4 separate regions of the Homo sapiens genome follow, and all the other regions are linked to region 1. The links come from fine-mapping of genetic effects on gene expression. A gene starts in region 1. Each other region holds a variant in brackets. All regions are shown on one strand. Distances are from middle to middle. Region 1 holds the start of LINC03129 (long intergenic non-protein coding RNA 3129). Region 2 overlaps LINC03006 (long intergenic non-protein coding RNA 3006). Region 3 has its middle 16 kb from the start of SNORA22C. Region 4 has its middle 5.2 kb from the start of LINC03006.

Evidence for each region. PIP is the estimated chance that this variant, and not a neighbour inherited with it, causes the effect.
Region 2: its variant is fine-mapped to the expression of LINC03129 in pancreas (GTEx, PIP 0.96).
Region 3: its variant is fine-mapped to the expression of LINC03129 in unexposed skin (GTEx, PIP above 0.99). The same link has a PIP of 0.9 or more in prostate and thyroid.
Region 4: its variant is fine-mapped to the expression of LINC03129 in unexposed skin (GTEx, PIP 0.94).

The regions. Positions count from the first base shown.
Region 1 is chr7:65,835,813-65,843,967 of GRCh38, forward strand. LINC03129 (long intergenic non-protein coding RNA 3129) reads left to right here and starts at 3,892. Exons shown (of 1, transcript XR_002956508.2): 1 at 3,892-6,590. RefSeq lists an enhancer at 3,230-3,741.
Region 2 is chr7:65,690,170-65,698,324 of GRCh38, forward strand. The region is part of intron 3 of LINC03006 (long intergenic non-protein coding RNA 3006); the gene reads right to left. It also overlaps the pseudogene INTS4P2. Among named protein-coding and RNA genes, the nearest start is that of SNORA22, 61 kb to the right of the region's middle. The variant A/G (reference allele first, on the strand shown) is at 4,841.
Region 3 is chr7:65,046,230-65,054,384 of GRCh38, forward strand. It overlaps the pseudogene CCT6P3. Among named protein-coding and RNA genes, the nearest start is that of SNORA22C, 16 kb to the right of the region's middle. RefSeq lists a silencer at 609-809. The variant G/T (reference allele first, on the strand shown) is at 3,416.
Region 4 is chr7:65,771,924-65,780,078 of GRCh38, forward strand. It overlaps the pseudogene GTF2IP5. Among named protein-coding and RNA genes, the nearest start is that of LINC03006, 5.2 kb to the left of the region's middle. RefSeq lists enhancers at 3,467-3,968, 3,969-4,468. The variant G/T (reference allele first, on the strand shown) is at 3,698.

The DNA of each region.
Region 1 (8,155 bases):
AGCTGACTGCAGCCTCAACCTCCCAGGTTCAAGTGATCCTCCCACCTCAGCCTCCTAAGTGGCTGAGACTATAGGTGCTTGGTACTGTGCCCAACTAATATTTGGACTTTTCCTATATGTGGGTTCCAGAGGGCTGACTGTGAAATGTGAGTATGCATGGATTTTGGTATATGCAGAGATGGGGGGCTGGAACTAATCCTCTCTGTATACCGAGGGATGACTGTATATGTTTTTACAATTATGCTGTATGACACATATTGTTCCATAGCCTTGAAAATGATAATTTTTAATGAAAATTATTTTTAATTGAGAGGAATAATAATAAAAGTAGCAGCTGGCCAGGTGTGGTGGCTCACACCAGTAATCACAACACTTTCGGAGGCTGAGGTAGGAGGATGGCTTGAGGCCAAGAGTTTGAGACAGGCCTCGGAAACCAAAGGAGACACCATCCCTACAGAAAAGTACATGAATTATCCTAGTGTGGTGACATGTTCCTGTAGTCCCAGCTACTTGGGAGGCTGCTGTGGGAAGATCACTTGAGTCCAAGGAGGTTGAGACTGCAGTGAGTCGTGATCAGGCCTCTGCACTCCAGCCTGGGTGACAGAGTGAGACCCTGTCTCAAAGCAACAAAAAAGTAGCAGCTAACATTAACTGACCTTTTACCAGGTGCCTATAAATACCATAGTATAATTTCTTATAACTGTTTCTTACTTAACTTAACCACTCTGTTTTCAATTACTCCCAGAATTTCACTGTGTTTATGCAGATGACCTTTTGTTTAGATTGAATTGTCTCCCCAAGGTATTTCCAGAAGTAAGATTACTGTGAGTCATGGTGAATGGGCATTCTCATTGCCCTTGATGTACATTGACAAGGTTTTGGGTGCCTCCTGGCTATAATCCCAGCCCTTTGGAGGCTAAGACAGGAGGATTGCTTGAGGCCAAGAGTTGGAGGAGGCAGTAAGGTGAGACCCTGTCTCTATTATTTTAAAAAATTGCCAACCTTTACCTTGGAAGACTATGTACAATTTAAACACCCCTCCTAGTATAAGAAAGTGTCCATTTCACTGCACCTTTGCCTGCACAGGGTATTATAATTTAATAAGTTATTTTTTGTTTGATTATTTTAAATAGATAAAATACCGCATATTACTTGGTCACATTTCAGCATCTTCCCTTAGCTTATTAGCTCTATTTCTTTTCTGTCTGTAAATGGTTGTTGTTGTTGTCGTTTTGTTGTTTTGTTTGAGACGGGGTCTTGCTGTGTCACCCAGGCTTGACTGTAGTGGCATAATCATGACTCACTGTAGCCTTGACCTCCCAGGCTCAAACTATTCTCTTACTTCAGCTTCCTGAGTAGCTGGGACTACAAGTGTGCACCACCACTCCCAGCTAATTTTTTTCTTTTTTTGGATAGAGACAGGGTCTCACTGTGTTGTCCAGGCCAATCTCTAGCTCCCGGCCTCAATCAGTCCTCCTGTGTTGGCTTCTTAAATTGCTGGAATTTCAGGCATGAGCCACCATGCCTGGCCTGGGCTAGTCCTATATTCTCTGGAGTTCTCTTTACTTTGTGCTAGCCAGTCTCTCATTATGCTGTTCCCCTGTTACAATGAATAATTCTCTGTATTAAATTTACCACTTTAAACTTTTGAGTGGTTTATGTCTCCTGGTTGGACTCTAATATGCTAAGAAGGGTCCCTGGAGATAGACTCACACAGATGGGATTTGGGGATAGGTTTGGTTATCCAAGGGGCAGTGCTGAGCTCCTTGCCAATGGGAAACGGAATGCTGGTGATTTCCAGGAAGTGACCTCACAATGACTCAAGCTACTGCTTACTGTTGATTGTGATGAAATGCCAGCTGAGGCACATGCCTTGGGAGCTAAGTGGTTGCTGCACTTGACCGCTATGAAGACTGGTGTGGGAATGGTCCTTTTGGATGCACTTCAGCAGGGGTCCCCAACCCCTGAGCCATGGAGCTGTAAGGAGCCACACAGCAGGAGGTGAGTGGTGTTGAGTGAGGGAAGCTGCATCTGTATTTACAGCCACTCCCCATTGCTCACATTCCCGCCTGAGCTCCGCCTTCTCTCAGATCAGCAGCAGCATTAGATTCTCATAGGAGCATGCATCCTATGCAAACCGTGCATGCGAGAGATCTGGGTTGTGCTGTCCCTATGAGAATCTAATACCTGATTATCTGTCACTTTCTTCCATCAATTCAGATGGGACCATCTTGTTGCAGGAAAATAAGCTTAACATGTCCACTGATTCTACATTATGGTGAGTTCTATAATTATTTCATTATATACTACAATGTAATAATGGAAATAAAGTGCCTAATAAATGTAATGCGCTTGAATCTTTTGGCTCAGCTCCTGCCTCCCGGCAGCCTCTCCAGGTCCAGAACTTTCTCCAGTCGGCCTCTACGGGCCAAGCTTGTGGCTCACAATGGCCTATTTAGGCCCATACCCTACCTCATGGCAGTCTCCACAGATGAGGCTGCTGCCTCATGGCAGCCCCCACAGGCCCAGCTCCATCATTACAATGGCCTCTTTAGGCCCAACTCCTGCCTCCCAGCCTTCTCTCCAGGCCCAGAGAGAAGGTTCTCAAGTCAACCTCACCAGGCCCAGCTACTGCCTCTCATCAGCCTCCCAAGGGCCATCTTTTGCCTCACAGCCACCTTCCAAGACTCAGCTCCTGTTTTACAGTGGACTCTTGAGGCCCACCTTTTGCCTCCCAGTGGCCTGTACAGGCCCAGCTCCTGCCATACAACAGTCTCTTTAGTCCGAGCTCCTGCCTCTGGGCAGCCTATACAGGCCCAAAATGTCCATAAGTCAGCCTCTCAAGGCCAAGCTCCTGCCTTCTTCCGTTGGCCTCTCCAGACCCAGCTGCTGCCTCCAGGTGGCCTCTAAAGGCTGAGGTTTCTCCTGGCTGTGCCTGGAGGCCCAGCTCCTGCCTCACAACAACCTCTTTTGGTTCAGCTCCTGCCCAGCTCCTGGTGGCCTTTGTAGGCCCAAAACTGCCTCAAGTCAAGCTCTCCAGACCCACCTTCTGCCTCCCAATGGCCTGGACAGGCCCAGCTCCTGTGTGACAACAGCATCTCCAGGCCCAGCTCTTGCCTCCCAGCTGACTCTCCAGGCCCAGCTTTTGCCTCACGGAGGTCTTCCCTGAACAAGTTTCTACCTGCCTCCCGGCAGCCTCGACAGGCCCAGGTCCTGCCTCACACTAACCTCATTACGCCCAGCTCATGCCTCACGGCAGCCTCTCCAGGCCCAGCTCCTGCCTCCGACGGGCTGTCCAGGCCCAAAACTTCCTCAAGTCGCCTCTTCAGGCACAGCTCCTGCCTAACACTGGCCTCTTTAGGCACAGCTCATGCCTCTCAGTGGCCTCTCCAGGCCCAGCTCCCGCATCCCGGTGGCTTCTCCAGACTGAGAACTTTCTCAAGTCTGCCATTTCAGCCCAAACTCCTGCCTCCCATTGGCCTCTACAGGCCCAACCTCTGCCTCACAGCAGACTTTCCAGGCCCAGTATCTGCCTCACCACAGCCTCCCAGGCAAAGCTCCTGCCTTTCGGCAGCCTCTACAGGCCTAGCTCCTGCCTCCCAGTGGCCTCTCTAGGCCAAGCTCCTGCCTCATGGTGGCCATTCCGGCCCAGCTTTTGCCTTTTTGCAACCTCTTTAGTCACAGAACTTCCACAAGTGAGCCTCTCCAGGCCCAGTTCTTCCTCCTAGCTGAATCTCCAGGCCCACCTCCTGCCTCACAACAATCTCTTTTGGCTCAGCTCCTGCCCAGCTCCTGGAGGCCTTTGTAGGCCCAAAACTTCCTCACGTCAAGCTCACCAGCACAATCTTCTGCCTCTTGGTAGCCTGGATAGGCCCAGCTCCTGCATGACAATGGCCTTTCCAGGCCCAGCTCTTGCTTCACGGAGGTCATCCCTGGCCAAGTTCCTGCCTACCTCCCAGCAGCCTTGACAGGCCCAGCTCCTGCCTCACACTGGCATCATTAGGCCCAGTTCATGCCTCACGGTGGCCTCTCCAGGCCCAGTTCCTGCCCCTGACAGACTCTCTAGGCCAAAATCTTCCTCAAGTCGGCCTCTCCAGGCCGATCTCTTGTCACACTGGTCTCTTTAGGCCCAGCTCATGCCTCTTGGCAGCCTCTTCAGGCCCAGCTTTTGTGTCCTGGCAGCCTCTCCAGGCCCAGCTCCTGCCTTCTGTCAGCCTCTACGGGCCCAATATCTGCCTCACAGCAGATTCTCCAGGCCCAGCATCTGCCTCACCGTGGCCCCCCACAAGCCAAGCGCCTGCCTTTCAGCAGCCTCTACACACCCAGCTCCTGCCACCCAATGGCTCTTTAGGCCAAGCTCATACCTCACGATGATTTTTCCAGGCCCAACTTTTGTCTCATGGCAACCTTCCCTGGCCAAGTTTCCACCTATTTCCTGGCAGCCTGGACAGGCCCAGGTCCTGCCACACACTGGCCTCTCTACGCCCAGCTCATGCCTCACAGTGGCCTCTCCAGGCCCAGCTCCTGTCCCGGGACATCATCTCCAGGCCCAAAACTTCCTCAAGTCGGCCTCTCCAGGCCCAGTTGCTGCCTCCCGGCATTCTCTCCAGGCCTAGCTCTTCCTCCTGGCTGTATCTACAAGACCAACTCCTGCCTCACAACAACCTTTTATGGCTCAGCTCCTGCCCAACTACTGCCGGCCTTTGTAGGCCCAAAACTTCCTCAAGTCAAGCTCTTTAGGCCCACCTTCTGCCTTGCAGTGGCCTGTACAGACCCAGCTCTGGCTTGAGAACAGCCTCTGCAGGCCCTGCTCTTGCCTCTTAGCTCCCTCTCCAGGCCCATCTCTTGCCTCACAGTGGCTTCCGTGGGCCAAGTTCCCGCCTGCCTCCCAGCAGCCTCAACAGGCCTAGCTCCTCCCTCACAATGGCTTGTTTAGGTCCAGTTGATGCCTCTGGCAACCTGTCCAGGCCCAGCTCCTGCCTCACACTGGCCTCTCTAGGCCGAGGTCCTTTCTCATACTGGCCTGTTTAGGCCCAGCTCATTCCTCTTGTCATCTCTCCAGGCCCAGCTTTTGCCTGTTGTTGGCCTCTACCTCACAGTGCACCTTCCAGTCCCACCTCTTGCCTCACCATGGCCTCCTCTGACCAGGTTCCTGCCTTTCGGCAGCCTCTACAGGCCTAGCTGCTGCCTCCCAATGGCCTTTGTAGGCCACGCTCATGCCTCACTGTGGCCTTTCCAGGCCTAGCTTTCGCTTTTTGGCCACTCCAGGCCCAGAACTTCCCCCAGTCAGCCTCTCCAGGCCCAGCTCTTCCTCCCAGCAACCTCTGCAGGCCCAAATCATCCTCAAATTGGCCTCTTCTTTCCCAGCTCCTGCCTCCTGGTGGCCTCTGAAGACCCAAATCGTCCTCCAGTTGGTTTTTCCAGGCCCAGCTCCTGCCTTTTGGTGGCCTCTCCAGGTGCAAAACTTCCTCCCATCAGCCTGTCCAGGCCCAGCTCATGCCTCTTGGTGGCCTTCTCAGGCCCTGCTTTTGACTTGGTGGCCTCTTCAGGCCCAGAACTTGAACTCAAGTCAGCCTCTCCAGGCCCAGCTCCTGCCTTCTTAAGGTCTGTACAGGCCCAGCCTCTACCTCACAGCGGACTCTCCACACCCAGCTCTTGCCTCACTGTAGCCTCCCCAGTCCAAAACTCCTGCCTTTTGGCAGCTTCGACAAGCCCAGCTCCTGCCTTTCAATGACCTCTTTAGGCCCCGCTCATTCCTTACAACGGCCTTTCCAGGCCCAGTTTTTCCCTTTTGGCGGCCTCTCCAGGCCCAGAACTTCCTCAAGTCGGCCTCTTTAGGCCCAGTTGCTGCCTCCTGGCATCCTCTGCAGGCCGAGCTCTTCCTCCCTGCTGTGTCTACAGGCCCAACTCCTGCCTCACAACAACCTCCTTGGACTCAGCTTCTGCCCAGCTCCTGGTGGCCTTTGTAGGCTCAAAATTTTCTCAAATCAAGCTCTCCAGGCCTACTGTCAGCCTCGTGGCAGCCTAAACAGGCCCAGCTCCTGCCTGACAATGGCCTCTCCAGGCTTTTCTCCTGCCTCGCAGCAGGCTTTCCAGGCCCAGCTCTTGCCTCATGGTGGCCTTCCCCGGCCATGTTCCTATCTGACTTCTGGCAGCCTCAACCGGCCCAGCTTCTGCCTCACACTGGCCTCTCTAGGCCCAGCTCCTTTTTCACAGTGGCCTCACTAGGCCCATCTCCTACCTCAGATCTGCCTCCCAAGACCCAGCTCCTGTCTCATGGTGGTCTCTCTTACACCAGCTCCTGCCTCACAATGGCCTCGTCTGGCCCATCTTCTGCCTCACAGTGGCCACTCAAGGCCCATCTTTTGCCTCATGGTAGCCTCTTCTGGTTTTGCTCTTGCCTCACAGTTGCCTCTTCCAGATCCAGCTTTAAGCCTTTGATGGTCAACAGCATCAAGGAGCCTAAAGCTTCCCTGGACTCTCATTTGTTCACTTTACAGCAGAGTGCCTTAGCAAAAACTGTCTCTTAACCTTGAGAGTGGATTTCTGACAAATCGATAGTAAATTCTGCCTGTGTGGTTTCACAGTGATTTCTGTTTTATTTAGTGTCTCATGGTTTTTCTTGTCTACTGGGGGTGAGGAGGGGAATGGGCTTTTGCTTGGGCCCTTTGTCTTTGCCCTGGACATGGTAGCTTCTCACTTCATGTCTTCTTTTTATATTTTTTATAGTTTTCTTTTTCTTTTATAGTTTTCTTAGACAGGGTCTTGCTCTGTCACCCAGGCTGGAGTGTAGTCATGTGATTATGGCTTACTGCAGACTTGGCCTCTTGGCCTCAAGTGATCCTCCCAACTCAGCATCTTGAGTAGCTGAGACTACAGGCATATGCCACCATGCCTGGCTAATTTCTGATTTTTTCTGAGAGGTTGGTTCTCACTAGGTTGCCCAGGCTGGTCCCAAACTTTTAGACACAAGCAATCTTTTTGCCTGGGCCTCCCAAAGTGCTGAGATTACAAACATGAGCCACCATGCCTGGCTTGCCATTTGCTTGTCATGAACTATTAAGAATTTACTTTTTGATTAATACACTATGACTATATACATTTCTATGTAGAGAGAGATTTTAAATTTTTCTTGGATACCAATTTTTTTCTTTTCTTTTCTTTTTTTTTTTTTTTTTTTGAGGCAAGGTACTGCTTTGTCACTTAGGATGGACTGCAGTGGTGTGATCTCAGCTCACCACAACCTCTGCTTTCTTGGCTTAAGTGATCCTCTCACATCAGCCTCCTGAGTAGCTGGGACCCCAGGTATAAGCTGCCATGCCCAGGTAATTTTTATATTTGTTGTAGAGAGGGGGTCTCACCATGTTTCCCAGGCTGGTTTCAAACTCCTGGGCTCAAGTGATCCTTCCAACTCAGCCTCCCAGAGTGCTGGGATTACAGGTGAGAGCCACACCTGGCCTGCCATTTTCTTTTCAAGGATGATTAAGAATTCACTTTATGCCAGGCACAGTGGCTCATGCTTGTAATCCCAGCAATTTGGGAGGACGACGTGGGTCTATTATGAGGTCAGGAGTTCAAGACCAGCCTGGCCAAGATGGTGAAACCCTGTCTCTACTAAAAATAGAAAAATTAGGTGCCTGTAATCCCAGCTACTCAGGAGGCTGAGGCAGGAGAATCGCTTCAATCTGGGGGGGCAGAGATGGAATTGAGCTGAGATCGAGCCACTGCACTCCACCCTGGGTGACAGAGTGAGACTCCATCTCAAAAAAAAAAAAGAATTTACTTTTTTATTAGTATACTGTAAATATTTATATATGTATGTGTGTGTATATATATTCATATATGTATATATGTGTATATTTTCATAGCATACACATACACACACACATCTATATATTGTGAAAGAGATATTTGAATGCCTAGAAGTTGATAAGCTTCTTCCAGGTTTTGAAACCACCCTTAGCACAAACATGAAAGAAGTACAAAGTATCATTATTAATGACCATGGACCAAGATGACCATGAGTCAATAGTACTTTGCACCTCAACCACCTTCCAGCAGAGCATCTCAAAGGGCTGGATGTATCTGAACATCACACCCTTTCACAGGGACTAGGATGCTTTGTAATTGTTACTTCTCTTAAGACCTCAGTGTG
Region 2 (8,155 bases), 150 kb before region 1:
TTGGGAGGCTGGGGCGGGTGGATCACCTGAGGTCAGGAGTTCAAGACCAGCCTGGCCAACATGGTGAAACCTCATCTCTACTAAAAATGCAAAAATCTGCTGGGCGTAGTGGCACATGCCTGTAATCCCAGCTACTCGGGAGGCAAAGGCAGGAGAATCGCTTGAACCCTGGAAGCAGAGGTTGCAGTGAGCCGAGATTGTGCCACTGCATGCCAGCCTGGGCAACAGAGCAAGACTCAGTCTCAAAAAAAAAAAAAAAAAACCATAAACAATAATAAAAATGTATAATTACCTTGCTTGTATAGTTCCTTATAGTTTATAAAGGGCCCTCAGGTAGTTATAATAGCTAACATTGAGTTCTTACTATGTGACAGACACTTTGCTGAGTACTTTATGTTAGTTATTTAATGCATATAGCAACTCTATGAAGTAATGACTTTTAATCTCATTTTGTAGATGAAAAAATTTACTTGCATAAGGCTACTTAGTTTCAGACAGATCTGTGATTTCAGGACTTCACCCAGGATATCAATTAGAATGTTTTTGCCCACAAATAAAAAAGACAATCTGATTAAAAATATCTTAGCCAATAAGTCTGTTTTTTCATAACGAGGTCAGAAGGTTGGTTTCAGGATTGGTCATTCAACAGGTTACCAGGGCTCTCTTTGGTTTCTCTGCAGTTCTCTTGGCTCTTTTTTTTTTTTTTTTTTTTTTGAGACAGAGTCTCTCTTTATCGCCAGGGTGGAGTGCATTGGCATAATATCGGCTCACTGAACCTCCGCCTCCCAGGTTCAAGCGATTCTCCTGCCTCAGCCTCCCGAGTAGCTGGGACTACAGGCCCGTGCCGCCATGCCCAGCTAATTTTTGTATTTTTAGCAGAGATGGGGTTTCACCATGTTGGCCAGGATGGTCTTGATCTCTTGACCTCCTGATCCAGCCATCTTGGCCTCACAAAGTGTTGGGATTATAGGCGTGAGGCACCGCACCCGGCCGGCTTTCTTCTCATGGTTGTAAGATGGCTGCCTCATAAGATAATATCTCAAGACAGAAAGGAAGGGTCATTCCCTTTCATGCATTGCTCTTTTGATTTGCAAAAACATCCCTGAGAAGCTCCCCAGCCAGCATACTCTCGTGCTCCATTGTCTAGAACTGGCTTACTTGCGTACCAGCAAACCAGTCACTGGAAAATGGGAATGGGGTTGCCATGATGGGTTTAGACCAATAGTGGTTCAGCTCTTGGGCTGGACCTGCCTTTTCCGAGCACTTTGCTGCCTGCCTGATACCTGAGTAAAATCAGGGCTCTCTCAGGAAGAAAGATGGGGGAAATGGCTGTTGGTTAAATAAACAGTTCTTTTATCTTTATAATAACCAGTTTTTTTAGATGAATTAACCAAGTTCCAGAATAACTGGGTGACTTATCTGAAGTCATAGAGTTAGCAAAAGTATATGGTTGAGAATTTCCAATTCCAGTTCAGGTTTTCTGATTCCAGTTCCTAGTACTTTTCAAAGGACTAACTTTACTAATTTGTTGATGTGCATTCTTATTTGTTTGTTTCAGGTGCTTGAAGTTTCTGGGAAGTCGGCATCCAACCCTGGTGCTTCCCTTGGTGCCAGAGCTTCTGAGCACCCACCCATTTTTTGACACAGCTGAACCAGACATGGATGATCCAGCTTGTATCCTCTGTGCTTAGGATGGGCCCTGATGTGTTGGCAGGCAGCTTTGGCATCTCCTTCTGCAGTGTAGCTAGGGTGGTCTGAGTTTTCTTTTCTTTGCTTTTCTTTCCTTTTTTTTTTTTTGAAGACAGAGTCTCATTCTGTCACCCAGGCTGGAGTGCAGTGGCTTGATCTCGGCTCACTGAAACCTCTGCCTCCCGGGTTCAAGCAATTCTCCTGCCTCAGCCTCCTGAGTAGCTGGGATTATAGGCGCCCGCTACCACACCCAGCTAATTTTTGTATTTTTAGTAGAGACGGGTTATCACCATGTTGGCCAGGCTGGTCTCAAATTCCTAACCTGTTGCTTGGGCTGGAGTGCAGTGGCACCACCCCAGCTCACTGCAACCTCCGCCTCCTGGATTCAAATGATTCTCCTGCCTCAGCCTCCCAAGTAGCTGGGATTACAGGTGCCTGCCACCACTCCCGGCTAATTTTTGTATTTTTAGTAGAGACGGGGTTTTACCTTGTTGCCCAGGCTGGTCTCAAACTCCTGACCTCAACTGATCCACCCGCCTCAGCCTCCCAAAGTGTTGGGATTACAGGCGTGAGCCACCATGCCTGGCCAGTATGTACTTTGATAGGCAATATAGTTGCTTACTTTATAGGCAAAATCATTTCCATTTTTTTGTATTCTTGGCAGTCTCTGGCATTTTTAAAAACCTTTGGTAATTGGGGGTGTGGGTGGAGTAGGGGAATGTATTTTGTTGTTTGTATTTGCATTTCTTTGATTATTAGAAAATCATAGTCTCTTGATGGAGATTTTGGAGGTGGAAAGTGAGAGTGCCAGAATCTGGCCAACCTTTTATACTTCCAAGTTTACTTAACCCAGTGATCTATCAGATATTGCAGTTTTGGTACTTATTTTCAATGCTGCTAAAACCTGTCCAACAATGCGAGCATTGTTCTCAGATCACACCGTCAGGCACTATGCCTACCTCCGAGACAGTCTTTCTCATCTTGTTCCTGCCTTGAGGGTATGTTGAAAACATCTGTTGTCCTTGTTTTTATTTTGCATGGGGTAGGGGTATTTGTGTTCATGTTTTCCTTTGAGATGGGGGTCTTGTTATGTTGCCCAGGGCGGTCTCAAACTCCTGGGCTTAAGCCATCCTCCTGGCTCAGCCTCCCAAGTCGCTGTGATTACAGGTGAGCACCATTGTGTGCAGCTTGTTTTTGGCTTTTTATTTTTTGTGCTTTGTGGTTATTAAATAGTAGAAAGCAGTCCATATATTCTCTGAAAACTTGTTTGTTCATTCTCCTTCTCTCTTGGGCTCTTTGCCATTGTTTTATACTTTTGCTTTTGTATCCTTTACCTTTTAAGATGATTCATTTTTTTTGGTGTCCCTGGGTTATTGATATTAGGCAAGAAGAAAGGAACCTGGAACAATAGATTATATTTTAGATCAAGAATTTAAATTGTTATATATTTATTTATTTATTTTTATTATTATTACCTTTTGAGACGAAGTCTCGCTGTGTCGCCCAGGCTGAAGTGCAGTGGCGCGATCTCGGCTCACTGCAAGCTCCGCCTCCCAGGTTCACTCCATTCTCCTGCCTCAGCCTCCCGAGTAGCTGGGACTGCAGGCACCTGCCACCACACCCGGCTAATTTTTTGTATTTTTTAGTAGAGACGGGGTTTCACCGTGTTAGCCAGGATGGTCTTGATCTCCTGACCTCGTGATCTGCCTGCCTCGGCCTCCCAAAGTGCTGGGATTACAGGCATGAGCCACCACACCCAGCCTAAATTGTTATATTTTAACTATTACATATAGCCATGATTCTCCAGAAGTGCTTATTTTTTAAAAATAAAACCTTTACTATTTTTAAAACCTAGAGATATAAAGAAGAAAATTTAAAAATGGATCGTAATAATAATAGCAAACACTTCGTGAATGCTGTGGCCCAGGTACTCTTCCAATCTCTCTATTTGCATTAACTCATCCCTGCTTGGGTGACTCCAAATCACTTTATTTGGAGTAATATACAAAATGAGGCCAGGTGCGGTGGCTCATGCCTGTAATCTAAGCATTTTGGGAGGCTGAGGCGGGTGGATCATCTGAGGACAGGAGTTCACGACCAGCCTGGCCAACGTGGTGAAACCTCATCTCTACTAAAAATACAAAAATTAACTGGGCATGGTGGTGGGCACCTGTAGTCCCAGCTACTCGGGAAGCTGTGGCAAGAGAATTGCTTGAACCCAGGAGGCAGAGGTTGCAATGAGCCAAGGTTGTGCCACTGCACTCCAGCCTGAGCGACAGAGTGAGACTCCATCTCAAAAAAAAAAACAAAAAACAAGTAGATACAAATTGAAAAGTGAAATACTCTTTGCTCTCTCCTCCCCATCCATCTTAAAAGGTAACCACTTTTAACAGTAAGAATATCTGAAGGGCTAGGCCAAAAATAAAAAAAAATTATTCTCATGAAAAAATTGTATGCTATATAAGTTTATTTGGGAATAAATCATTACTCTTCCTTCAAGTGAAAGATAAGATAGTGTTTTAAAGATAAATGTGGCCGGGTGCAGTGGCTCACGCCTGTAATCCCAGCAGTCTGGGTGGCTGAGGCAGGCGGATCACCTGTGGTCAGGAGTTCGAGACCAGCCTGACCAACATGGAGAAACCCTGTCTCTACTAAAAATACAAAATTAGCTGGGTCTGGGGGCGGCCACCTCTAATCCCAGCTACTCAGGAGGCTGAGGCAAGAGAATCGCTTGAACCTGGGAGGTGGAGTTTGCAGTGAGCCGAGATGGTACCATTGCACTCTAGGCAACAAGAGTGAAACTCTGTCTAAAAAAAAAAAAGATGTAGCAACAGTTTAATTTTTAGTCTCCTTCCTATGGTTGGCCCATTTATTTCAGTTAGCAATAGAAAATATTATACCTTTTCTGTTTTTCTCCTGGCAGCTGTGGCTGTATTGGGTAGACCATGTTTGCATTTTGTCTCTTTCTCTTTAACTCCCAATTGTTGCTGAGGAAGGGGAGAAATGTTATTTATAGAATCTCCTAGCCTTTTTTCCCCTTTGTTTTGTTTAGCTCACATTTTTAATGTGCTTTTATGTGTTTGTGTGTGTGTTACCAAAAGCTGAGCCACCAAACTTAATGACTCTATAATCCCACTGTGTTTGCTTAGTT[A/G]CCAGGTAGAAAACTGGTGTCATCAGCTGTTTCTCCCAGCATCATACCTCAAGAGGATCCTTCGCAGCAGTTCCTGCAGCAGAGCCTTGAAAGAGTGTATAGTCTTCAGCACTTGGACCCTCAGGGAGCCCAGGAGCTGCTGGAATTCACCATCAGGTAGGGTAATCATCCCTTCATCTGACAGAGTTAGTGCCGTTACACTCAGCTTGACTGTTCTGAATTCTGGTGTTGGTTACTAGGCTTGATATTCTGACTCTATTGGTCTACATTCACACACGGTTTTATGGTCTGTTTATATTTGGATTAGATTGTGGTTTGAACATATTTTTTAAAAGAGCTCTTTATATTCATGACTCGATTGATGATTAGTACACAACAAAATAGTTACAAAGAACCTGTTTTTAGTTTTTTAATTTTATATATTAGGATGAGTGACCAAAATGCAAAGTAACAGTGGCTAAAACAGGAGCAAAGTTTAAGTCTTCCTCATAGGCAGGACAGGGCTGAGATGACCATCAAGGATCTAGGCTTGCTCATTCTTTTTTTTTTTTTTTTGAGACAGGGTCTCACCCTGTCACCCAGGCTGGAGTGCAGTGGCATAATATCAGCTCACTGCAACTGCAGCCTCCTGGGCTCAAGTGATTCTCCCACTTCAGCCTCCCAAGTAGCTGGGACCACAGGCATATGCCACCACACCCGGCTAATTTTGGCTTTTTTTTTTTTTTTTTGGTAGAGTCGAGGTTTCACCATGGTGGCCAGGCCGGTCTCAAACTCCTGAGCTCAAGTGATCCTCCCGCCTCGGCCTCCCGAAGTGCTGGAATTACAGGCGTGAGCCACTGTGCCCGGCCTAGGCTCATTCTTTCTTGTGTCTTCATCTTCTGCATCAAGCAGCTCTGCTTAACAATTCAGAATCTAACTGTCCCCCCTGTATTCCATCCTGTGGGGAAAAGGAAACGGGAAGAGAAAGGTATCATCTCCACCCTGTGGTTTGTTTAAAGACACTTCCCAAAAGTTGTACACTCTAATTTTACTTGCATTCCATTGACTAGAACTTAAGTCACATGGCCATCTCTCACTTCAAGGAGCGAGGACATGCAGTCTTTATTCTGGGTGACTAATGCCTGGTTTACATGCGATGACTCTAATACTCAGGAAGAATGGGAGAAAGATATTGGGGAACAACCAAAAGGCTCTGCCAGACCTTCCTCAAAATGGCCTGAATGATATGAAAAGAATTTAAACTCATTTGCTTTTAGCAAAAGCAGTATTGTTTGCTCTTAAAAGATTAAAAAATTATGTCTTTTAAGAGCAAACAGTACTGCTTTTGCTAAAAGCAAATGAGTTTAAATTCTTTATTGTTTGCTCTTAAAAGAGAAAAATATTATATCGTCCAGGTGCAGTGGCTCATGCCTGTAATCCCAGCACTTTGGGAGACCGAGGCGGGAGGATCACTTGAGGCTAGGAGTTCAAGACCAGCCCCGCTGAGTGAAACCCCGTCTCTACTAAAAATAGTAGCCTGTAATCCCAGCTACTTGGGAGATTGAGGCACAAGAGTCGCTTGAACTCGGGAGGCGGAGCTTGCAGTGAGCCAAGATCATGCCACTGCACTCCAGTCTGGGCAACAGAGTGAGACTCCATCTCAAAACAAAAAAGAAAGAAAGAAAAATATTATATTATATCATTTGTATCTTGGTTGAGATCTCTTTTGATCTGCCCGGAAGAGTATTTGGCACCAGCCACATTCAACTAATAATTTTTAGTGGATGATTTCATTCCATACACTAAGAAACAAGCTCTGTGCTAGATACAGATCAGCTAGCTAGGATTCTGCCCTTAGAGAGCCCATGTAGACAAGATGGATATAGACAAAGACTTATGATGGTGGATAACAGCGCTTTGTACTTTGTTCATGCTTTCCTGTCCATTATTGCATCTTAACATGTTATAAAGCCGGCCAACTGAACCATCCTCCAAGTTATGTTTTCCCATTATATTAGGTCATTCATTCACTTAGCAGCATTAACTATTTGTTTATTCTAATAAGCCAGTTGCTGAGGGTAGAGAGAAATAAGAAATGACATTTGTTCTTAAGGTACTCACTGTTTATTACAGGACGCAGAAATCATCAATTTGATAAATGATACAGTGAAGAGAAGCATAGATGCTGTGGAAAAACAGATGAAAGGCCCCGACCCATCACAGTAGTAGTGGTGAGGGATGCTTCACAAAGGAGAAGATCCTTTAGCTAGTATGAAATGATAACTGAGCATGTCAGTTTCGTAGTCCATGTGCAGAAGAGAATTCCAACTTCAGCAGACATTAGAAGAGCTGGGAGACCTGAGGGAGAACAGCCTCCCAGAACTGCAGTGGTGTAGTATAGAGATTGAGTGAATGGAGCTTTGAAGGCAGACTCATTTTGGTTAACGTCTGAGCTAATACAGTCATGCACTGAATAACAACGTTGTGGTGGTCCCATGATTATATTTTTACTGTACCTTTTTTATGTTTAGATATACAGATATTTACCATTGTTTACCATATTTACCAATATTTACCATTGTAACCAGTGTTACAGTTGCCTACAGTCTTTAGTACAGTAACATGCTATACAGATTTGTAGCCTAGGAGCAACAGACTATCCCATATAGCCTAGGTGTGTAGTAGGCTATACCATTTGGATTTGTGTAAATATACTCTATGTGATGTTTGTGAGACAAAATCACATAACAGTGTATGTCTCAGAATGTATCTCCATCGTTAAACAACGCATGACTTGTAGTTGTTTGATCTTAGTCAACTATATTGCTCAGGGTTCATTTGCAGAAAACAAAAGAGGCTTTTAACTAATTTAAGCAGAAAGAAATTTATTACAGAATGTTACATGGCTCACAGAGTTGTTGGGAAAGCTAAAGAAACAGACTAGGTGGAATATCCAGGAATGATTTCCAGAGCCACACAATGAGTGGGCCACCAAGGAGGCTGATGTTCCTGCTATTATCAGGAAAGCTGCCTATTGAGTCAGGATGCTACCAATAAAGCTGCTGGCTCCAGAACCGTGTCTTGCATTCTGCCTTTCTTCCGACTTAACATTGTTCCCTATACAAAACTCATGCGAATGTGTTTGATTGACTGATAATAAATCACGTCTGGAACCTAGCTCAAGGGAATCTGAGAAATGCAGTTTTTAACTTTGCAGCTTATGTAGTCCAGGAAGATACAGTAGATGAAGATAGGAATACCACGTGTGAGTGAGCCAAATCCAGTATATGCCGTAAGTACCAACTGCTGTTAGCTCCAGTTTACTCACCTGGGGGA
Region 3 (8,155 bases), 790 kb before region 1:
AGCCACCACGCCCAGCCTTTTACCACTACTTTAAATTCCATTTAGATCTAATATTGATAGAGTGATAACCATATCAACCAGATTTTTAAAATATGCAAACGATGGTGCCAGTTTCTGTATCTGTGACAAAAATATATAGAGTTTGTATTATAGCTTTTACCTGTTTAGAGCACTCTTTGGAAAGGCAGGGAAATTACTGTGAAGGTATTGGTATTCCAGAAGTAAGTTCCTGGAGTGTTTTGCCTTCTAAGGTGTGAGGACGTGGTTTGTCACACCCAGTTAGCTATCAGATAGTGTAGTGAGCTATCCGGAAGACTTAGCAGGTTAGCCTAGGGAGGAAGGAGAAAGGGGTTCTGGGCACATGGAGGGAGGGGGAGGGAAAAGAGTTTGTTTTTGTCCTAGATTGGGGTAGCTTTTTCTGAGGGAGGCCTTGTCCTGTGGACCTGCTGCATATAAAGACAGGAGAATTGGACCTGAGGTGTGGTGCTAGCTAAAGCGCCACACAGATCTGGGAATTTAAGAGGAGTTCATTTCCTCAATCATTAGGAAGAACTTGAAGGGGTAGCAAACTGTGGTCATTTGAGAAGAATAGCAAGTGGTCATATTTGAATGTAACATACTCAACTGGGTTGGGAAAGAACCAGAATCTAGATCTTGCCCATAACAAGTGCAAAACCAGGCGTTCTTGTAAACCATGTACTCTTGTAAACACTGATAAGACATAGCACTGAGTCTTGGGCTTTTCTTCTATAAAGTTGTTGTACTGGTTGAGGATCCCTAATCCAAAAATCCAAAATCTGAAATGCCCCTGTGAGCATTTCCGTTGAGTGTCATATTGGCACTCAAAGTTTTGGATTTTGAACCATTTCAGATTTTGGACTTTCAGATTTGGGATGCTCAACCCGGTATATAATGCACATATTCCCAAATCTGAAAAAATCCCAAATCCAAAGTATTTCAGCTCCAAAGCTGTTTCAGATAAGGAATACTCAACCTGTACTACATTGTACTAGGCTTGTATTAGATTCCCAGTTTTCAAAATTTGTATCTCAGAATCCCTGTTCTCTGTCAATGAAACAGGGATTTCATACACCTTTGATTCACATTTTAATGTTTTAACTTTAAAATATTATAAATGTTTAAACACAGTCAAATGCATCTCATGCTAAATTTTAATATATTAGAGACAACTGATTTGTACTGCCAGGTTATCTCAAGAGAGTTATACTGAGTGAAAACAAGTGAGAACCCTAGAAGGTTATATACTGTATGATTGCATTTATGTAACATTATTGAAATAACAAACCTGCAGAGATGGAGAACAGATTTAGTGGTTGCTAGGAGTTAGGAATGGGAGGTGAGGGGTGGTGTGGTTATAAAGTGGTAGCATGAGGGAGCTGTGTAGGGATGGAACAGTTCTGTGTCTCAGGTGTGATTATACAAAGCTGCAAACGTGATAAAAACTTCATACAACCACACACACACATACTGCATATAAATCCTAGCGTACTCAAGTCCCATTTGCATACAAAACTGGTGAAACCTGAATAAACTCAGGATTGGAGGAATTTGGGCGAGGGTACTTGGGACCTCCCTGTGTACTTTTTTGTAAATTCCTGTGATTTATAGTTATAGTAATTTTAAAATAAAAAGTTGGCCAGGCACGGTGGCTCATGCCTGTAATCCCAGCACTTTGGGAGGCTGAGGCGGATGTATCACGTGAGGTCAGGAGTTCAAGACCAGCCTGGCCAACATGGTGAAACCCCATCTCTACTAAAAATACAAAAATTAGCCGGGCATGGTAGTGGGTGCTTGTAGTCTGAGCTACCTGGGAGGCTGAGGCAGGAGAATCACTTGAACCTGGGAGGCAGAGGTTGCAGTGAGCTGAGATCATGCCACTGCACTCCAGCCTGAGCGACAGAGCAAACTCTGTCTCAAGAAAATAAAATAAAATAGACTGGGTGCAGTGGCTCACGCCTGTAACCCCAGCACTTTGGGAGGCTGAGGTGGGTGGATCACCTGAGGTCAGGAGTTGGAGACCAGCCTGACCAACATGGTGAAACCCCATCTCTACTAAAAATACAAAATTAGCCGGGCATGGTGGTGCATGCCTGTAATCTCAGCTACTCGGGAGGCTGAGGCAGGAGAGTTGCTTGAACCCAGGAGGCGGAGGTTGCAGTGAGCCAAGATCACGCCATTGCACTCCAGCCTGGGCAACAAGAGTGAAACTCCATCTCAAAAATAAAATAAAATAAAATAAAAAGTAAAAAAGCACACACAAAAAAGTGCATTTAGAATATTTGAGAGAAAATAAGCAAAAGGAAGAAAATGTAAATTATCTATAATGCTTACACCCAGGACAACAATCCTTGGAATAGAGTGTCTCACTTTGTATATAGAAATGAAACTTTTAAAATGCCATTTTATTTTTTAATTAAAATTTTTTCTTTCCTTTTTTTTCCTCAGAGTTAGAAAGGATAAAAATGTTATTGATTAGTAAGACTGTATCTTTATGTTGATATTTTGAAATTTTAGGCTAGTGCTTGTTTGTTCATATAACATTATATAAGCACATTCAGTACTATTAGAACTGTTGCATTATGCAATAACATGACTGCCTAATGCATATATCAGGATTAGTACATATTGTAAAGTTTTTATTTTTTACCAAAATGTTTACGACTACCAAGTATTCATTCCTTAACACTATTACATAATTAATTTAGAAATGTTTTACTTTTAAAACTTCTGGATAGGTGTAATTAAATTCTTAGATAGCGTTAATGTACTATTTAAAAAACACACACAAAACATTATCATTTGTAAAACATGCTTTATCATCTATTCATCTTTGTGAATCCGGTTTTTCTTGATACCATGCCATCAAAACAAATTTGACATAAGACTGCCCAATCATCCATAATTTAAAGTTGGTGTTTGTCAGAAGAATTTTATTGTTCTCATTATACATGTTATACATTTGAGCTTTTTTTTTTTTTTTTTTTTTTTTTTGGAGATGCAGTCTCACTCTGTCACCCAGGCTGGAATGCATGCAGTGGTGCCATCTCGGCTCAATGCAACCTCCACCTCCCAGCTTCAAGTGATTTTCCTGCTTCAGCCTCCTGAGTAGCTGGAACTACAGGCACGTGCCACCATGCCTGGCTTTTTTTTGTGTGTATGTTTTTACTAGAGATGGGGTTTCACCATGTTGGTCAGGCTCGTCTCGAACTCCTGACCTCAAATGATCCACCCCCCGCCTTGGCCTCCCAAAGTGCTGGAATTACCGGCATGAGCCACCACACCCGGCCACGTTTGAGCTTTGAAATACATTGATAGAATAAAATACTGCTTTATTCTTTTTTTGTTTGTTTTTTGAGATGGAGTTTCACTCTTTAACCCAGGCTGGAGTGCAGTG[G/T]CAGGATCTCAGCTCACTGCAACCTCTGCCTTCCAGCTTCAAGTGATTCTCCTGCCTCAGGCTCCCGAGTAGCTGGGATTACAGGCACCTGCCACCAAACCCTGCTAATTTTTGTATTTTTAGTAGAGATGGGGTTTCACCATGTTGGCCAGGCTGGTGTCGACCTCCTGACCTCGTAATCTGCCCTCCTCAGCCTCCCAAAGTGCTGGGATTACAGGTGCAAGCCACCACACCCAGCCTAATCTGTTTCTTATGTTATAGATGCACATAAAATTTCATTTAGAAAAATGTTCTTGTACTACAATATTTAAAGCTATTGAATTATGATTCATAAGTTTTATTTTGTAGTTAGCATCTCTAGGGGAATTTCAGGGACACTGTTGGCTGTCTTGTGATTACCGATCCTTTTAAAAACTCGTTGTATTTGAGAAGTAAAATAGTAGAATATATATGACAAAATCGGGAATTAAAGTAGACAGTATACTCAATTCCACTGTGTTTAAAGAGTTTGATTAATTTCTATACATTGTGCCAGTGGTTAAGATCTGGGACTCTAGAGTCAACCTGAGTTGAAATCTTGGCTCTGTCACTTGATCTCTTGTCTCAGCTTCTTCCTCCATAAAATGAGGGTAGTAATAGCGTTAACTCATAGGATTATTGTGAATATGAAGTGTACCAGTACATGTAAATAGTCCTGGTGTCTGGCATAAAGGTACTCATAAAACATAGTTACTATTATTTTAGAACATGGTTTAGATCTTCCTGTATGTTTAATTTGTCTTTTCCTCACTTAACATATCACGGCAGGGCACGGTGGCCATAATCCCAGCACTTTGGGAGGCTGAGGCAGGTGGATCATCTGAGGTCAGGAGTTTGAGACCAGCCTGGCCAACGTGGTGAAACCCCATCTCTACAGCCTGGCCAACGTGGTGAAACCCCATCTCTACTAAAAATACAAAAATTAGCTGGGCATGGTAATGCACACTGATGGTCCCAGCTACTTGGGAGGCTGAGGCAGGAGAATTGCTTGAACTGGGGAGGCAGAAGTTGCAGTGAGCCGAGATCATGCCATTGTACTTCAGCCTGGGCGACAGAGTGAGACTGTCTCAAAAAAAAAGAAAATATTACCACTATTTTCCCATGTTGTTAAAAATTCCACCAGTAATGGAAGAGAATATTGGGTGCCCTGTGCCCTTGCCAAATTGGGCATTCTCATTTTTTAGATATTTGCCAATATGATTTATGAAAATTGTCATGTTATTGTTTTGATTTGCATTTTCCCCAAGCATCAGCAAGATTTAATGGTTTCACATTTAAAAAATTTATTTTTTAATTTATAATCACCTTGTTTGATAATGAGGTTTTCATGTTTTTATTAACTGTGTTTCTTCTCCTGCCTGGATAAATTTTAGAATTTTTCACATCGATTTAGACGAATGCTAGTACAAAGGTTTTTTTAAGTCTATGATAATTTTAATGATTTTTCTTGGTAATTTTTGTCTGTAGATTCAAGTTCAGACAGGCACTTCCCATTCTGATATTGTGTAAATATATGTAATTTGTTAGTTCTGAAAAACATGACTTCTTTAACCTCCTAGAATGTAGTTTACTGGGTGTTACATGAATCTACAACATAATTTTTGTACAGACAAAAATTTTGCATTTCTTCTGGATATTGCCTGTTCATACCTTTGCCCATTTTTTCCCTTTCTGGGTTGTTTATCTTTTCTTCTTATTGCTTTATAGGAGTTCTTTAGATGTCACAATGGTTAATCTTTTGTTATATGTGTTACACATTTTCTCTTCATTTGTTATTTGTCTTTTAATTTTGTGTTATGGTGTCTTTACATAGAAGTGTTAACTTAGGTGGTCAGATCTTTCACTTAAAAAAATTCTTCATTATTCAACTGGAAAATCTTTCACATATTTATAGTTTTTTTTTTTTTCTGGTTTAGCAAAATCTCTACCATCCCAAGATTATCTTTAAAATATTTTCATATACTTTATATGAAAAAATTTTTTTCACACTGAGCTCTTTTAGTTTGTATGGAATTTCCTTTTGTATCTAGTGTAAGGGTAGGGATCTAAATTTTTCCTAAATGGATAGGCTTTTGCCTCTCTCAGTTCATTGACTTGTTCATATTTCAAATGCCACAAGGCTTTTCTGCATACATAAGGCCTCTTTCTGGATTCTCAGTTCTGTTCCAGTGACAGGTCGGTCTGTGTTTATTCCATTACCACCCCTCCCCCGTGGCTTTTTATAGAAGTTTGATATCTGATAGGGCAAATATGCTCATTTCCAAATTTTTCTTTGCTATTGTCATGAATTTACTGTTTCCGGTGAATTTTAGAATAATTTTGATGAGTTCTAAGACAAATCCCACTGAGATTTTGATTAGAATTGTGCTAAATTTATAGACGAATATGGGAAGGAGTCAGTTCTCACTAGCAGGTCTTTCCATCAAGGAGCATATTGTATCTGTTTATTCTGGAATTGCCTCTCTGATAACGGTTTTAACTTAGATGCTCATTGTGGCATTGTTTTGTTCTAAACACATGTATTACAAAGATAGTGTTAGAGTAAATTAGTTGAGGGAAAAGCCTTATATCATCTATCCCTGTTTTCATTTCTCTTTTCACCTTTACTTTTGGTCTAAAGAGTCTTTATCATGATATATGGTATATGTATACTCAGGTTCTTGTAATAATCGGCAGTATATTATGATCTCTTTTTCTTATAGTCATTAATTTAATGATTAAGGACCATTTAATCAAGTTGATACCTGTACTTAACTCTTATTGTTAGATATGAAGGATGTTTCCAGTTTCTGAAGGTACACATTGAGATAGTGCCTTTACTTTTGTTTTATTTGAAAAATGTTTCAGGAGGGGTTGTTTTATTTTTTCAAAAAACCTCTTTGAGGTAATACGCAATTGTTGTGAAAATGTCATACAATATTGCAGCATATAAAGAAGAAGGTGCCTTTTGAGAAGGTGAGAGCTTTTTGTTTTTTTATTTTTTTATTTTTTTGAGATGGAGTCTCACTCTGTCGCCCAGGCTGGAGTGCAGTGGTGCGATCTCGGCTCACTGCCACCTCCGCCTCCCGGGTTCACGCCGTTCTCCTGCCTCAGCATCCCGAGTAGCTGGGACTACAGGCGTCCGCCACCACGCCTGGCTAATTTTTTATATTTTTAGTAGAGACAGGGTTTCACCATGTTAGCCAGGATGGTCTCAATCTCCTGACCTTGTGATCCACCCACCTTGGCCTCCCAGAGTGCTGGGATTACAGGCGTGAGCCACTGTTTTTGTTTTTTTTTTTCTGAGACAGAGTCTTACTCTGTCACCCAAGCTGAAGTGCAGTGGCGCAATCTTGGCTCACTGAAACCTCTGCCTCCCGGGTTCAAGCTATTCTCCTGCCTCAGCCTCCCAAGTAGCTGGGATTACAGGTGCATGCCACCACCCCTGGCTAATTTTACATATTTTTAGTAGAGACGGGGGTTTCACCGTGTTAGCCAGGATGGTCTCGATCTCCTGACCCCATGATCTGCCCGCCTTAGCCTCCCAAAGTGCTGGGATTACACGCATGAGCCACCATGCCTGGCCGGGAAGGTAAGAGTTTTGTTCTCTAAACTTTCAGTCATTGGAGTACCTCCTTGTTACTTTTGCCATATGCTTGTATCATCTGTACTGTTAATTCATAACACTTTTCTTAAAATTTACTAAAGAAACCCAGAAATCCTTAGTGATAAGAGCTGTGAACTCTTGATCTATATTAGATAAATACATAACTTTGATATTATGTACATTGCTGTATATTAAAGAAATATAACATTGATCCATATTAAATAAATGAGTTTTTCAAAAGTATGTATACTTTATGACACACTGGCACAGTGAGTGGAAGTGTAGGTTCTGAAATCAAGGTTTCGTGGTTTTAGATCCTAATTGTGCTATGTCCTCCCTCAGTGATACTAGATAATAAACTTAAGCCTCCACTTCCATTTTATTTGTTAAATGAGGTTAGTATGCCACCTGCCTTGTAAGGTTATTGTAAAATTAAACAGCAAGTGTACAAGCAGTCAGCACAGCCCTAGTACATAGGTGTTGCACAAATGCTATCATTCAATAGAATAATTTGTAAATACCTTGCGCCTCCTTCAAAGTTAGTTCTCACACAAGCATCTCATTTTTAAAGTGTTTACATAGTATATATTGTAAGAATGTATTGTGATTTATGAAACATAGCCTTTTTAAATTTTGTTTCTTTCTGTCATTTAAAAATAAAAGCAACAAATAACAGGATAGCTTCCTACTATGTATCACCATATTTCCCTCCCAAAGGACTGTACTAATTTGCTGTTCTGTCAGTTTAGACTTTATCACTTAAATATTTGGTGAGGGGTGATAGTGGGTTTAAAAATAAAAGTTGTTTTTGTTTTAGTTAACATTTTATTATTATTCACCAGCCATTAAGGAACACATTAATTACTATTTATTCTTTCTTGTTGAATCTGTGCAATTTTCTGAGAAGTAGGTAAACCCGCCCCTGTGTGTGTATGTGTCTGTGTGTGTGAGATGCAATTTGTGTGGTGCTAGAAATTGAGAAATTATGGTAATTTCTTATTATTCTGGTCAGGGATCCCTGGAATATCAAAATTGTCTGCAATCTATAGCCACTATTTTCAAGTCTATAGGGTCCCTGGGAGAAATATTTATATTAAATATTTGCACTGACAAAT
Region 4 (8,155 bases), 64 kb before region 1:
ACTCAGGAGGCTAAGACAGGAGAGTCTCTTGAACCCAGGAGGCGGAGGTTGCAGTGAGCCGAGAAGCATCACTGCACCCCAGTCTGGGCGACAGAGCAAGACTCCAGAGCTTGAGACCAGCCTGGGCCATGTAGTGAAACCCTGTTTATAAAAAACAAACAAAAAAAGCCAGGTGTACCTGTGTCCACCTGTGGCCCCACTACTTAAGAGTCTGAGGCAGGAGGATAACTTGAGGCCAGGAGCTGAAGGCTGCAGTGAGCTATGGTCATCCCACTGCTCTCCATCCTGAGCAATAGAATGAAACCTTGTCTCTAGATAGCTAGCTAGCTAGGTAATTGATACGTAGTTTTCTATCGGAAATCTTTTTCCTAGACTTGAACATGTTTTTCTAAAGTAGCATTCAACACATCAGCATTTTACAGTGTTATTAGTTGTTAATATGATTATGTTTTTCTGAAATACAGTATTCTTTACCAAAACAGTGTTGTCTTTCAAAGCACATACATAGGTCCTCCAGTGAATTTGTCTGATGTTGGCGACCTTCGCTTTCTGGTGACTGAGTCAACAGTATCTGTTTCATAAATAATGTAGCCCTATTTTTTTTGAGACAGGGTCTTGCTCTGTTACCTGGGCTGGAGTGCAGTGGCATGATCTCTGCTCACCATAACTACCGCCTCCTGGGTTCAAGCGATTCTCCTGCCTCAGCTTCCTGAATAACTGGGATTACAGGCGCCACCATATCTGGCTAATATCTTTTTGTTTTTGTTTTTGAGACGGAGTTCGCTCTTGTTGCCCAGGCTAGAGTGCAATGTCGCCATCTCGGCTTACTGCAACCTCCACCTCCCGGGTTCAAGCGATTCTCCTGCCTCAGCCTCCCTAGTAGCTGGGATTACAGGCATGTGCCACCACGCCTGGCTAACTTTGTATTTTTAGTAGAGACAGGGTTTCTCCATGTTGGTCAGGCTGGTCTTGAACTCCCTACCTCAGGTGATCCGGCCACCTCAGCTTCCCAAAGTGACAGGTGTGAGCCACCGCGCCCAGCCTAATTTTTGTATTTTTAGTAGAGATGGGGTTTCACCATGTTGGCCAGGATGGTCTTGAATTCCTGACCTCAAGTGATCTGCCTGCCTTGGCCTCCTAAAGTGTTGGAATTACAGGCATAAGCCAACATGCCCGGCCAACCCTATTTCTTTAAGCATATACATTTTGCACTTGTTAAAAGTATTTGAACATAAAATTATCCAGCTTCCCTTGTTTATGTATGTTTGAATTTTGTATAAGCTTAAATATTTTTTCCAATCTAAGCTTTATTATATTCCCTTTCTTCTATATTTGTATAACTTTAGGTGGCTGTCTTTGTTGAAAGTTTTTTCTGAAAAGCCTTAAAACAATATAGTTATTGGCAGCAATTTCAGAGTTATTTGAGGGCAAGGGGAGATTTATAATGATGATTCAAATGAAGCAAACTAAAAAGTAATGAAGCAAGACAGAGGATAAAGCAGTATTCACTTGAGCACATCCCAAAAGAATAAAATTTCAAATGTAACTAGAAAAATGTATGCTGAAGATCATAGTACAGGAATAATTATTAATATTCAAAATAGCTTTAAAGCCGCTCACCTTTTGAATGTTGGGAATTTACCAGGAGGTGGCTGTAACCTAGAATTGTTCCTTCAGTAATGACCATTTTCTTTTTCAACATGATGATGATTCTCCACCTTCTAAGAGACCAAAGACCAACAAACTACCACAGCCACCAGTTCCGGAACCTGCCAATGATGGGCAACGGAAAGTGAGGGAGTTCAACTCTGGTAAGTTCTCAGTGAAATCCACAACCTTTTCCCTCATCTTCTGGACTCTCAATGTGGCTGATGAAAGTTACAACATGCTCATCTGCAGGGGGAAATGCTTTAGCATGTATTACTATGTTATAATCTCACCTTTGTAAAGCCAGGAGCTTTTTGAAAGTCCCATTATAGACATTGTTTAAACATGGTTTGAATTTACCAAAGCATAGGACATTGTTTCATCTCATATTAATTAGTTGGCTCAAAATTAGTCCTAATGACTTAGGAATTCAATGGTTTCTCTTAGCTTTAAAACCTTCTTTATTTCAGAACTATTTCACCTGTTGGTTTTCGTTTTTGCTGTGTGTCACTGCCTGCCAGCTGCTATTGTGTTAACTCCCAGTGGATCATGTGTCCTGTGAAGGGACTGAATGAGATATTAATGGCAAATTATGTTGATGATTCATATTTTGAATATAAATAGATCATTAAGCTTGTATACATTTTGAAAATAGTATGTTAATATTCTGTTGTGTCATAGTCACAATGATTGGCTACATATTGAATTTATATGTACATTAAGTTGTTGTATGCTTATGTTCTTTAACATTCTAACTTGCAACTGTATATCTGTTAAGTCTTTTTTTTTTTTTTTCCGAGAAGATCAGACTCTGATTTATTGAGGCATCTGTTTGATGCCAAGTTAAGTGGCCCAGGCTCTGTGTAGGGGGTGAGGTTAACGCAGGAAGAAAGATGGTGAGGGGCAAGGGTGCAAGGATTATGTTGGAATGAGGCTCCCCAAGTTTCCCTGGCCCTGGCTGGTTGTGCTGCTGGCCTGAACATCTGATGAGCTTGCAAGGGTGACTCCGAGAGGTGGGTGGTCCAGGGGCTAGGGCAGGGACTTTGGAGTCACGCTGTTGGCTTTGAATCCAGACTCCTACACTTGGTAGCTGTGACCTTTCCATGCCTCAGTGACCTGCAGAACTGAGCTCTGTCTGAGCCAGGTCCCATCCAGGCACTGCAGATCCATCCAGAGTTAAACCACCCCAGGTTGCTGACTATCTGCTGCCTTCTCAAGCAGATCCTTGTCTCCTTGGAGGCCTTCACAATCCAGTGGAGGAGGCAAAACTCATCTGCCTCTGTCCCTCTGGGTGCACCTCATGCCAGGTGCATCTGTGGGCACAGGTCATGCTCCTGGGCTTCCAAAGTTGGAGAAAGTTGCCAGGCTCAGGTGGCTATATCAGAGCAGCTGCTACCCTCTGGACACAGTGACAAAAGAACACTCTGGGCCTAGAGTCCTGGTCTGGGGCACTGGGCAAGGCTCTTGCACTTCTCTGAGCCCGTTTCCCCATCTGGAAAGTGTGCTGATTGAGTCTCCCTTTGGGCACTGAGGGCTCAGGGTTAGTTTGAGAGCCAGCATCTGGGGTTTGGGCTGTAATTCCCCTTCAGCCCCATAGCTGGGGGGAGTCAGGGACTTTGTCGGGATTACCCTAGGCATCAGTCCAGCTTCCTGCTCCTGGCTTGGGCTCAGCATCTGAAGTAGTTTGGGGGGCAGGTGGTCCTGGTGGGGGTTGGGGCTTTTCCCCAGAATTAGGTCACACCCAGAGCCAGAAATCTTGGCACCTGCTCTAGGCTAAGGATGCATCTGGCCCCCAGGGTGCAGGTAACTGCCCACCTTTCCTGGTTTCTGCCTGCCAGGGCCAATCTTCAGACCTCGGGACTTCCCAGCCTATCCCACCTCCCTCTCTGGCCAGCCTTGAACCCTCGTGGGTCCAGCACTTTTTCCAGGCCATCTCCTGGTTGTCCTCCTGCCCCGAGGCCTGGCTCATGCTGCTCCCCCTCCCACTCACCATGACCCACAAGGACCACTCCACACCCAGCTCAGCCCCAACCCCTTGGATAGTCCTTTC[G/T]CTTTCCTCAGGCAACCAGGTGCATATCTTGGTGTCAGGACCTTCCCTGCACCTGGGAATGCCTACTGGTCACGTCGGTCACAGAGACCAAGGCATTTACTTGATTTGAGTGCCTTTGGTTCATTGTCTGCATGGCCAGGGAGGGAGTCAATGATAGGCTTTTCACTTGCTGCAAGGGTCAGTTCTCCTGGCCCCATGGCCCTAGGGATGGAGGATGCTGCAGGATACACACCCCTCACTTCCCAGCTGAGTGCTGTGGGTCATCTCAGGGCGATTTCACAGTCCCGCATGCCCCACCCCCTCAGCTCTGCAAATACCAAGCAGCGCAGCCTGCCTAGGGGACAGTGGGCTCAGGACTGCCCAGGTGGGCTCAAGACTGCCCAGGTAGTCCCCAGAGTGCCCTTGGCAGGCCCCTCACCTAGCTGCTCCCACAGCTCTGTAGCAAGAGTCTAACCTTTTTTGAGTGTGGAGCCTGCTGAGAATGAGAACTGTGGGCTGTTTTCCCGGAAACGCATGTGCACACTCTCCACACAAAACCTTGCATCGTTTCAGGGGGCTCACACCTCCCTAAGGGCCCAGTTATTGAACCCCTCGGACCTGAGAATGAGAAACCTTGCCTCAATAGAGTCTTGCTCTGTTGCCCAGGCTGGAGTGCAGTGGCCCAACCTCAGCTCACTGCAACCTCCGCCTGCTGGGTTCACGCAATTCTCCTGCCTCAGCCTCCTGAGTAGCTGGGACTACAGATGCGCACCTACCACTCTCAGCTAATTTTTTGTATTTTTAGTAGAGATAGGGTTTCACCATGTTGGCCAGGATGGTCTAGATCCCTTGACTTCGTGACCCGCCCGCCTCGGCCTCCCAAAGTCCCAGGCATGAGCCACCACGCTGAGTCAGGGTCCCTCTTAAACTTGTATTTTTAAGGTCTGGTGTCCCTCTTACTTAATCTTTTTTTTTTTTCTTTTTTGAGACGGAGTCTTGCTCTGTCACCCAGGCTGGCAGTGGCATGGCCTCGGCTCACTGCAACGTCCGCCTCCTGGGTTCAAGTGATTCTCCTGCCTCAACCTCCTGAGTAGCTGGGACTACAGGCACCTGCCACCATGTCTGGCTAAGTTTTATATTTTTGGCATAGACGGGGGCGGAGGCAGGGGGTTGGGGAGGGGAGGGGGGATTTTGCTTTGTTGCCCGGAGCTCGAAGTGATAATCTGCCCACCTCTGCTCTCAAAGTGCTAGGATTACAGGCCTGCACCACTGCACCCAGCTGCTGTAAAGCCTTATTTCCACACAGCTGAGACATGTTTTAGGAAGTTTGCGAAAAGGCCTCTGGAGACCTCCTCATTGTGGCCTCCCTGTTGTCGTGTTTAATTTGATTGATCTTTTCTGCCCTCCTTTTCAGAAATTAAAGGCTAAAAAAAGGCATTAAACTTTAAAACTTCTCTTGTAGTCTCCTATTAAACTAATTCTAAGAACCACCAAAAAAGGGAAAAATGTTTTCGAAAGCAGTAAAATGATATGGACTGTTAGTATGTAAAATATAGGAAATAAGTCATTATATATTATTGCTGCTCTGACATAGGGACATATTATTGAGAATCAACTTTTGCTCAGTTTTCAGAGAAGTGGAATAATCATATCGCTGATCTATGTAAACAAGTTGAAGAATTGTCTGACAGAAAATATGGTATGTTTAAATTGGAAAAGTCCTGTAATACTTTGTTCATAAGCATTTACACAATGGAGTTATTGTTCATCATGGGAGTACTGTGGACAAGCCCAGGGCTGCTGGTGAATCCTGCCATCCTTACACGTCTCTCCTTGTAAGGTGCTTTGTAGTTTCTGTCTAAATATTAGAAACATTCTTTGTTTCTAGATTACTGCAAAACTAAGGAAAAGTTTTATTTCTTTAGCATTTCTTTTAAACTTTCAGCATGGATATTGGGGATTTATTTACATGTTTATTGCAAAGCCCTGGATCTTAGAGATTTAATTGAATATTATTTTTTGAAACTAATTGTTTCTCTTAATCTGCTTTGTTAAATTCGGTATTCACCAAGATGCCTCTATTGTCTCTACTTTTATCCTTTTTTTTTTTTTTTTTGAGTTAGAGTCTCACACTGTTGCCCAGACTGCGGTGTATTGGTGCAATCTCAGCTCACTAAAACCTCCACCTCCTAGGTTCAAGCGATTCTCCTGCCTCAGCCTCCCGAATAGTTGGGATTACAGGCGATTCTGTTGCCTCATCCTCCCAAGTAGCTGGGATTACAGGGGTGTGTCACCAGGCCCAGCTAATTTTTATATTTTTGTAGAGACAGGGTTTCACCATGTTGGCCAGGCTGGTCTCGAACTCCTGACCTCAAATGATCCATTCTCCTCGGCCTCCCAAAGTGCTGGGATTACAGGTGTGAGCCACCACACCCGGCCTATGTTTTTATTATATTGTTAATTTAGTACTATTCTGAGTAAAAATAATTTGCTATTACAGTTTTATAAATTGACTATGACAATTTTATAAATGTCAGTGCTTTTTATAAAATGAAACAGATTATGTTGTGGGGCTTTTGTTGTGATGGTGATTTACTATTTAAAGACATTAATATTCAGTTGTTGTGAAACTATAAAAACAATCTTCACATTTTATATATATATATATATTTTTTTTGAGACAGTTTCGCTTTTGTTGTTCTGGCTGGAGTGCAATGGCGCAATCTCGGCTCACCGCAACCTCCGCCTCCTAGGTTCAAGCGATTCTCCTGCCTCAACCTCCAGAGTAGCTAGGACTACAGGTGTGCACCACCACGCGCAGGTAATTTTTGTACTTTTAGTAGAGACAGGGTTTCACCATGTTGGCCAGGATGGTCTTGATCTCTTGACCTCGTCATCTACCTGCCCTGGTCTCCCAAAGTGCTGGGATTACAGGCGCGAGCCACCACACCTGGCCCACATTTTGTAATTTTAAAGCAGTATTAATGGTAATTGCCTTAGAGAAAGATACTTTTGTTGTGATATATAAGTATGATATTCAAGTATAGTGTACAGCAAAGGACATTAAACCTAAGTCAGCACTAATGTGTTATAGGATACACTTGAAACTTTAGTACAAATAGTAATGTTTAGCAAATAGACCTTAACACATAATGATAGCAAAAAAATGGAGCTGTTCAGATGAGAGACCATTGGTTATGTCTGATTTTAATACTCCCTATGCTCTTGACTTTTTCTTTTTTTCCTTTGAGACAGAGTCTTGCTTTGTCACCCAGGCTGGAGTGCAGCAGCGTGATCATGGCTCACTGCAACCTCCACCTCTCAGGTTCAAGCGATCCTGCCGCCTCAGCCTCCCTAGTAGCTGGGACTACAGGTGAGAGCCACCATGCCCAGCTAATTTTTGTATTTTTAGTAGAGACGGGGTTTTGCCATGTTGGCCAGGCTGGTCTCAAACTCCTGACCTCAGGTGCTCCACCCGCCTTGGCCCCCCAGAGTGTTGGGGTTACAGGCATGAGTCACTGCACCTGGCCATCACTTGACTTTTTATAGTTGTTGTAGTATTTTAATCATGAGTAAATAAATGCTAGTTGAAATGATGCAGTTCAGGAGCATCTTCTGCTTCTCTTACTAAAAAAAAGTATTTTTTTAAGTCCAATAGTTACACTAATGTTTATGTGTGGAAAATATTACCTTTTCCAGCCGGGTGCGGTAGCTCACACCTGAAATCCCAGCACTTTGGGAGGCTGAGGTGGGTGGATCACCTGAGGTCAGGAGTTCAAGACTAGCCTGACCAATATGGTGAAACCCAATCTCTACTAAAAATAAAAAAAACTAGTCGGGCATGGTGGTGGGCGCCTGTAGTCCCAGCTACTCGGGAGGCTGAAACAGGAGAATTGCTTGAACCCAGGAGGCAGAGGTTGCAGTGAGCCAAGATCGTGCCGTTGCACTCCAAGACTCTGTATCAAAAAAAAAAAAAAAAATGAAAATATTACCTATTCCATTTAGTACTATATGTTTTAAATGATATTAGCTGGTATTTTTTTGGCTTTATAATGTGGTTCAGATTTCTGTAGAAATTCTGGCTGTATCTGCATTGCCTTAAAGTAATGGGATATTTCTTTTTTTCTTTTTCTTTTTTTTTTTTCTTCAGCTGGAGTTCCGCTGTTGTCACCCATGCTGGAGTGCAATGGTGTGATCTCGGCTCACTGTAACCCCTGCTTCCCAAGTTCAAGTGATTCTCCTAGCTCAGCCTCCTGAGTAGCTGGGAATACAAGCACCTGCCACAATGCCTGGCTAATTTTTGTATTTTTAGTAGAGATGGGTTTTACCATGTTGGCCAGGCTGGTCTCGAACTCCTGACCTCATGATCTGCCTGCCTCAGCCTTTCAAAGTGTTGGGATTACAGTCATGAGCCACCGTGCCCAGCCTGTCTTTTCTTTCCAAAGCCACCCTTGGTGATTAAATGTTAAATATGTACTA